2 linked regions of the Homo sapiens genome follow. The protein of the gene in region 1 purifies or fractionates together with the protein of each later gene. This does not show direct contact. Each region holds a gene or a part of one and is shown on either strand. Other genes may lie near its edges. The genes, in order: PDC and DCC.

What was found.
Region 2: the proteins of PDC (region 1) and DCC purify together in Homo sapiens (affinity purification with mass spectrometry; one large-scale study listed by BioGRID and IntAct). This does not show direct contact.

What each region holds. Positions count from the first base shown.
Region 1 is NC_000001.11:186,447,427-186,451,263, reverse strand, and holds part of PDC (phosducin), read left to right. Parts: exon of another isoform or gene 1-85; intron 86-1,780; 5' UTR 1,781-1,804; coding exon 1,805-1,865; intron 1,866-2,539; exon of another isoform or gene 2,540-2,636; intron 2,637-3,837. UniProt on the Homo sapiens protein: May participate in the regulation of visual phototransduction or in the integration of photoreceptor metabolism. Inhibits the transcriptional activation activity of the cone-rod homeobox CRX.
Region 2 is NC_000018.10:52,346,492-52,350,328, forward strand, and holds part of DCC (netrin receptor DCC), read left to right. Parts: intron 1-3,837. UniProt on the Homo sapiens protein: Receptor for netrin required for axon guidance. Mediates axon attraction of neuronal growth cones in the developing nervous system upon ligand binding. Its association with UNC5 proteins may trigger signaling for axon repulsion.

The sequences.
Region 1 (3,837 bases):
GAAATTGATTGGCTTTCCCTTGACAGTCTTTTCTTGTTCAAGTGGAAAAACTCAAATTGGCAAAGACATTTGACCTCCAGTGATTCTGGATAGGGATTGCAAAAAGAGAAACAAAATTACAGGACCAGTCCAAGTGTTGAGACCAAAGGTAAAGGCAAAAGAGAAATCAAGAAAGAGTTCTGTGTTACCACCCTGCGCCTTGGGAAAGCACCACACAGACCAAATGCAGGATTGAAGTGTAAATCAATAGAAAACTAAGATGAGTTTCAAAGTATAAACTGTGCGATATAGTGCCTAAAACTGACTTCGAAAGAAGGAGGCAAAGCAAAAAAAGTGAAAGAATAAAGTATAAAAATAAGATAGTTTATCTACGATTAGTATATCCTCCCTGACTTGAAAACTTCAGGAAAATCACAACTATATGGACCCCTGAGGGAATATGTTAGTATGTATAATAATTGAGTTTTCTGGATAGTCCAAAGCTAAAAAAGGAAATAGATTTGATATGAGTGTGAACCAGATAGAATGAAAGAATAGATTCTACATGCGGGCACCAAGGAGTTTCGTATGAATAAAAATCCAAGTGCTTTTAGTGATTTTCTATTTTAGCCTGTCAAAAATACTATAAACCGGCAGGGTGTGGTGGCTGAATCCTATAATCCCAGCATTTTGAGAGGCCAAGATGGGAGGATCACTTGAGGCCAGAAGTTCAACACTAGCCTGGGCAACATACCAAAAAATAAAAAAAAACATTAGCAGGGCGTGGTGGCGCAAACACACACCTGTAGTCCCCGCCGCTCAGGAGACTGACGTGGTAAGGTCACTTGAGCCCAGAAGTTTGAGGCTGCAGTGAGCTAAATAAAACAGCACCATCGCACTTAATGAAGCCTGGGAGACAGAGTTAGACCCTCTCTCAAAAAACTTAAAAAAAAAAATACTATAGGCTTACCTACTGGCTATTTCCATTTGCTTGGTGGCTACTGTTGTCATGAAAACTTGTCCCATGGTATGGAGAGATGCTATTGAATAGTGTTCCTTAGACCATCATTTTTTAATGCCAATTCAAAGATTTGATTTGCCAAATCATACTGAGAAAAATGACTCTATTATAGAATGTTAATTTCCATAATAGTGTAATGATTAAGAGTTGGCTCCAAAGTCAGAAAATGTAGGTTCAAATCTTTGCTCCACCACTTATTGTATGATCTTGGGCAAGTAACTTAAACTCTCTGCCCTTCAGCTTCCTCGGTTACAACATGTCATTAACAATTGTTCCTACCACATATAGCTATGTGAGAATTAAATGAGTTTTGACACATAAAATAATTTAAACAATGCCTGACACATAGTGTTCATAGCAAGTATATAATTATTAATTTAATTTTTATTATATGAAATAAGTAACATATATTACGTCATATATTCAAATTTCACATAATATTAGGAAATTAGGAAAATCAGTAATAAATAATGTTCACTAACCACATAGACTTAACTGGAAGGCTTGAGTTAAGAAAAGACAAATGATGAATTATATAAAATCCTTAAGTCCAGACATCTTTAATAACACATGTTAAATTAATGTCCTTTTACATTGCGGACAGAAACATTCTAAATACTTTACCACTTACTTTACCACTGAGTGATTATCCTTAGCCTACTTATGGAATCTGGCAGCAGGAGACTATAAATATGCATGTACCTATATATTTATCTCTATATATATGTATGTACATCCTGGAATTCTTGTGTCATTATTATTTCTTTGTTCCTCCTATAGATTATATCAAATCCAGTCCCTAAAATGGAAGAAGCCAAAAGCCAAAGTTTGGAGGAAGACTTTGAAGGACAGGCCACACATACAGGCAAGCAAAGCTAGAAGAAAAAATAATTATTAAATTAAAATTAAATATGGCAATATCTAATGTTCTTATTGACACTATTCAGTATGTACTTTAAGTAATATCTTTATATAAATTGTTATGCTAATCTAAAAAATATTTGAGCGGGCAAATTAATTTTTGAAATCAAATAATTCCTAACAGTTTTATTTAGATGTCAAAGAGTAAAAAAACAAAAACACCAATTACTGGTAATTTCTTGCTGCCCAGCTATCACAAGACCTCTTATCTACACTATAATTAAGCCACTTTCCTCTCTCCTGATTGTACCCCACCCTCAGTATGAACTTTCATTGTAAACAAGATTAGACCAAAAGGTTAATAAATGGCCTTTAATTTCATTTTTTTCATCTAATAAAGGGAATGATAAGATATTCCCTTTATTTTTTTGAATAAATAAATTTCAGTATTCCTCCAGAAAACTTAACACTTCATTTCATCCAGAGTCTGTTTTCTTAATCTGTTAAATTATGTTTGGCTATCTATATGCCACTCCTAAGAGCTTAAAACTTAAATTTAAAAATTCACATTTAACTCTACTAAATCTTATTTGAATGGTAATTTCCTCTCTCTTTTAATTTGGATTGAGCCATTAAATTTAGCCAGAAGTTTGAAAGAATTCACAAGAGTACCAGCCAAAATGTGTGGAGATTTATTTTATAATAGCAATGTGAGGAATACCTTCCTAATTATGACAAAAACAAAAACAACAACAAAAAGACCATTGAAGAAAAGGTTGGTAAATTCATTTATAAAAAGGAAGGAAGGATGGATGGATGAAGGGATGGAGGGAAAGTAGGAGACAGGGAAAAAAAGGAAGGAAATATCTGCTGTCTGGTAAAGGTCACCAGGAACAAAAGTCAAAAAGCATTTAACAAATTGGGGAAAAACATTTGCAACTCAGTTGACAGTGTCAGTTTCCTAATATATATTAAGAGCTTCTACAAATCGATAAGAAAAGAAACTAATTACCAAATAGAACAATGAGCAAAAGATAGGACAGACTATTCATGGGGAAAAAAAGAAACAGAAAAAAGTAACACAGAAAACTATAGTGAAAGCAAGTAAGTTTAATAACACATTTTTGGCACCCTCATACATTGCTGATAGCAGTGTAAATTGGTACAATCTCTGTACAGGCAACCTAGCAATATCAAAATTAGTAATGTATATGCCCTTTGACCAGGGAATTTTACTTATATAACCATAACTATACCTGCACAGAGTGTTAAAAATGTATGCACAAGATTCTTCACTCAGCATCATATGTCATAGAAAAAACTGGAAACAACAATGTAGATCACGATTAAACAGTTTAAGTCAATTATGTATATCTACACAATGGAACACCATGCCTCAATTTTCTAAATAAGGAAGAACCTTTTCATGTGTGTATACTGAAAAAATCTCCAAGATATAGTATGAAACAGAAAAAACAAGGTAAGGAAAAATGCAGATAATACACCACCATCTGTAGAAAACACGAACAAAATGGATTCTCTTTTTTAAACAAACATACACACATGTATATTTTGCATATGCATAAAACATATCTAAAATATTGATATGAACACTGTATGTGAAAACAAAAAGCTTTGATTGCCTGCATATAATATAAACACATTCATAACAAATTTATATTAAATATATATCATATATAAAACAAAAATTATTAGGCAATATAGAGGAGAAAGAAGGAATACATCCACATATAGAATATGATATAGAATATGGACATTAAAGGTGTAGATATAGCTAAGCTTTAGTGAAGGATAGTCAGTTTAATATTCCTTGTTTTAAAGAATTTAAGACTTTCTTAAATGAATAACGTTGTTAGTCATCAGGTCAACTGAATATCAGAATTCCAGTTGAATCATCCTTCATTTAATTAGTTTTACTTAAATCTGCCAATCTGGCCGGGCACAGTGGCTCACAC
Region 2 (3,837 bases), on another chromosome or scaffold:
TCAACTATTAAGTGAAAGTGTTTTCTTTGGTAGTTTAGAAATACCTGAGCTTTGTCCCAATGGTGTGGTTTAGAAATACATAATAATGCATAAGATTGAATATGCCTTCTTTTTCAATATTGATGGGAATTTGCCAATGGTAATACCAGTGCATATTGCTCTTTTATTAATAGTTCCAAACAACCATATTATTCACAGCTTTCATTTCTTGGGGGGAAAAGTTCAAGTAGGAAACACACAAATCATTCCATATTTATTGATCATATTTTTAAGGCTATTCTTATGGCATGACTTCTGTAGGAATGTTTCTCTTTTCTAGTAAATTCCACGAGCCCAGTGTCTATGATCTACTTCTACTTCGTGATATACTTTAGCTTAATTTCACTAATCCAAATTTTTTGACTTTTAGCTTGCTCAGTCATTTCACCATGGCCCTCCAGGGAGGAAGACCCTTTAAAACCATTTGTGGTTATGATGATGAAACTTAACAGGAGTATTTATTGCAATTTGGAGATTTCTTCCTGGTTCATCCTTTAAATATTGGTTCTTGCCTGAAGGCTACTCCTAAGAGTATCTAGGACAAACATGTTCCACTGAATTAACTGAATCTTTAGGATGTTATCTGATGAAAATACCAACTGGTTAGTGAATTGTGTTCTGATAAGAGGACTTGTCAATACAACATTATTCTGGGCCATCTACAATGTTCTTAAATCTGTGTTTACATTTTGACAAGAGAAAAAAGAAGTTAAGCAGTTAATATAAATGTTTTTAACTCAAATCACATTTTTAGATTTTACTTATTTTTCTATAGTCTTTTAGAAATATTTCTCCACTCACTTAGCTGCCTCTTTAAAAGTATGTAGAACATAATTTAACCTGTTCTTAATAGATACAATACATCACTATGACTTCATTATAGTATTATGTGATTTTATAGGGATAATTTTTGAAGGCATTGCATCATACAGAACTGTTTATTTTTCCCATCAATTGACCATGGACTGTTACTATTGTTGAGTTTTATCTCTGGCTATAAAATATATTTTGTCTACATCTTGTGTTCAGCTGAAACTTCTCCCTGTATAAAACTTCCTCAAAGCAGTTCTCTCTTTTAGTTTTGATGTTAAGACATAGGGGACTAAGTTTTGTTGGGGTTGTGTTTAAAGTAGGAGAGGAGATTAGAAAACAGCACCTGAATCCCTTATTAGAGGAATATCTAATTAGTTTTAACTAATGATTCTGTAGCATCTGATATTAATTTGGATGTCACTTGTACTTTGTACAACGTATTTTTCCTTATTAAATGAGAATGTGGACTAGATCAACTCTAGTTATTAGTTTCAACACTATATAATTTATTTAAATTATGAACTGTACTATACATATAGTGTTTGGTATAATTAATAATACAATTCATGATCATGATAACAATAATAATAATGTAATAATAACAAATACCCATGTACCCACTAGCAGTTTTCTGATTTTTGTATTAACCCCTTGCCTTTTGTACAGTTTTTCCACATATGTATACATCTTTAACATGTTACTTTACTTGGCTGTTCTTAACAGTAATAAAATAAATATAATGTGTATATTCTCTGACTTGCAATTTTGCTGAACGTTAAGTATCTGAGTTTCATCTATGTGGATTCATATTGCTGTATTTCAGTCACTTTCTCTGGTGTATAATACTTCATGATATTAATTAACCATAGTTTATCTAATCTATTGTTGATGGATTTTGAAATTCAGTTTTTTGCTATTGCTAGTAAAGTTGGCATAAACATTCTGGTGCATGTCCACCAGCACAAATTTGCCACCATGTTTAGGGTGCATACCTAGGAGTGGAATTGCTGAGTCATAGAAGGGTATCTTTTCATCCGGGAGGCAAAGACATGTTGCAGTTACTGAAACCCCCACCAGGGGCAGATGAAAGGCCTCTTTGCTTCATGCCTCTGCCAACACTTGGTATTTTCATATGCTTAATTTGCCCGCATCTGGTAACTTCTCATTGTGGGTTTAATTCGCATTTTCCTGATTGCTTATAAGTCTGAACATTTTTTCCATTAATTTGTTAGCTATTTGTGATGTCAGCAAGACAATTCTATGATTCTGTTTCTTCAACTGAGCAACATTTGCTTTTAGACCTTAATATTATTGGTAGTTATTCTGTTTCTTCTACTAAGCAACCCTTTGCTTTTAGGCATAGATGTTATCAGTAGTCTAATGTTCAGGAAGTTGTCGCCTAATACTTTACCATGTTGACTCTGGCCTAGGCTTTATTTAAGCACCTTCCCAAAATGTACACTGATTTTGAGTTGGAAAAGACATTCTTAGTCACTGTAACATTGTTGATTACCCTGAGCAAGTCCTGCCATGTTAGTATCCTGCCTTATCCTGTTTATTGTGTCTTTATAGAGAATCATTTACAGGGAAGCAGGATGCTGGGATGCCAGGCTTAATTTGAGGCTCCTTATGAATCCCCTGAATATAATGGAACTAAAGGATAACAGAAACACAGAGTAGTAATGGTAGACACCAAATCTGAGTTAAAAATCTTAATATGATCATTTGAATTTGGGTATATTTCCAACATGGTAAAATACATAGGCCCAATATCATTGTTACATTTATGGCATATATAACTGTGGGTTTCAAACAAACGTATGTGCTTTGTGCACCATCCCCCCCAATTTTTGTTTGGGTTTATAATTTTTTCACCTGCTCCCATGGGACAGGCTAATGAAGACCCCTGAATGAAATAAAGCCTCAGATGTACTTGCAGAGGCCTCTGTAGTGTGTTGCCTTCTGTGCAGACTCATTAGAGATGTGAGCCAAGGCTGAGACATCTAAGCAAACCCTCTGCACCCAGAGTCCTCAATCCATTGTTCCTGCATCTTTTTTCAGTCTCATGGGATCCCAGAAGAATACAAATTAGAGAGAAGAATCTGCAAAGCTTTTCCTTTCATGTTTAATGTCTGGGCAGAGCTGTTCCCTGCAGGACAATTTCTGGTTATTTTCTCTCTCTGGTTTGAGGCATCTCCAGGGATGGTTTGGTGACTGTTTCCCTTGGGGAAGTTTTCAGCAGCATATCAGTTTTACTGTTAAAAGTTTATTTTACAATTCATCTGAGATAGTCCTGTTCTAAATGTTCTTTCCATTACCCTTGTCATCTGGCTCTTGATTCCTGCATACCCTTTTCAGTGACACTGCCTCTTCTGGGCTGAAATGTGTTCAATAATTCGAGCTATAAATCACTCTCGCCTCCCCATTTGGTCTTTACTTAACCAGATTATAAATATTTAATTCATTTGATTTTTCCTCATACCACTCCAGAAGCTTAATCATGTTTAGTCTTCTTACTTTAACTCCCTCTAGTTTGTTTATATCTTTCTTGTAATCAAGGGGCCTAACTCTGATGTGCTCTTCTAAGTAAGCTCTCCAGAGTCATATTATAAAATACAAATTCAGCATCATCTTTAGCTTATTGTACAGCCATAGACAAACATATGGTCTCTCAAAACTTGTGTTATCAGTTTTCAGGAAGGACTATCAATGCCTAATAAAATCATTGAGATATTATAAGGACCAAATAAGACCAAGTATTTCATTGAAGATAGTACAATAGTTACTGAGCCTTTACCAACGATTACAAATAGATGAATAAAAGATTTAGATGAGTTTCTGCCCTGCAGGGGCTTTTCCTCCAGTGAAGGTGACAGGCACACACAGAGGTAGGTAGGATACAAGGTAGAACAAAGTACTCACCGAAAAGGGACACAAACAGTTCTGTTCTTCATGTGGTTTTTGTCATTGGTTCTGTTTATGTGA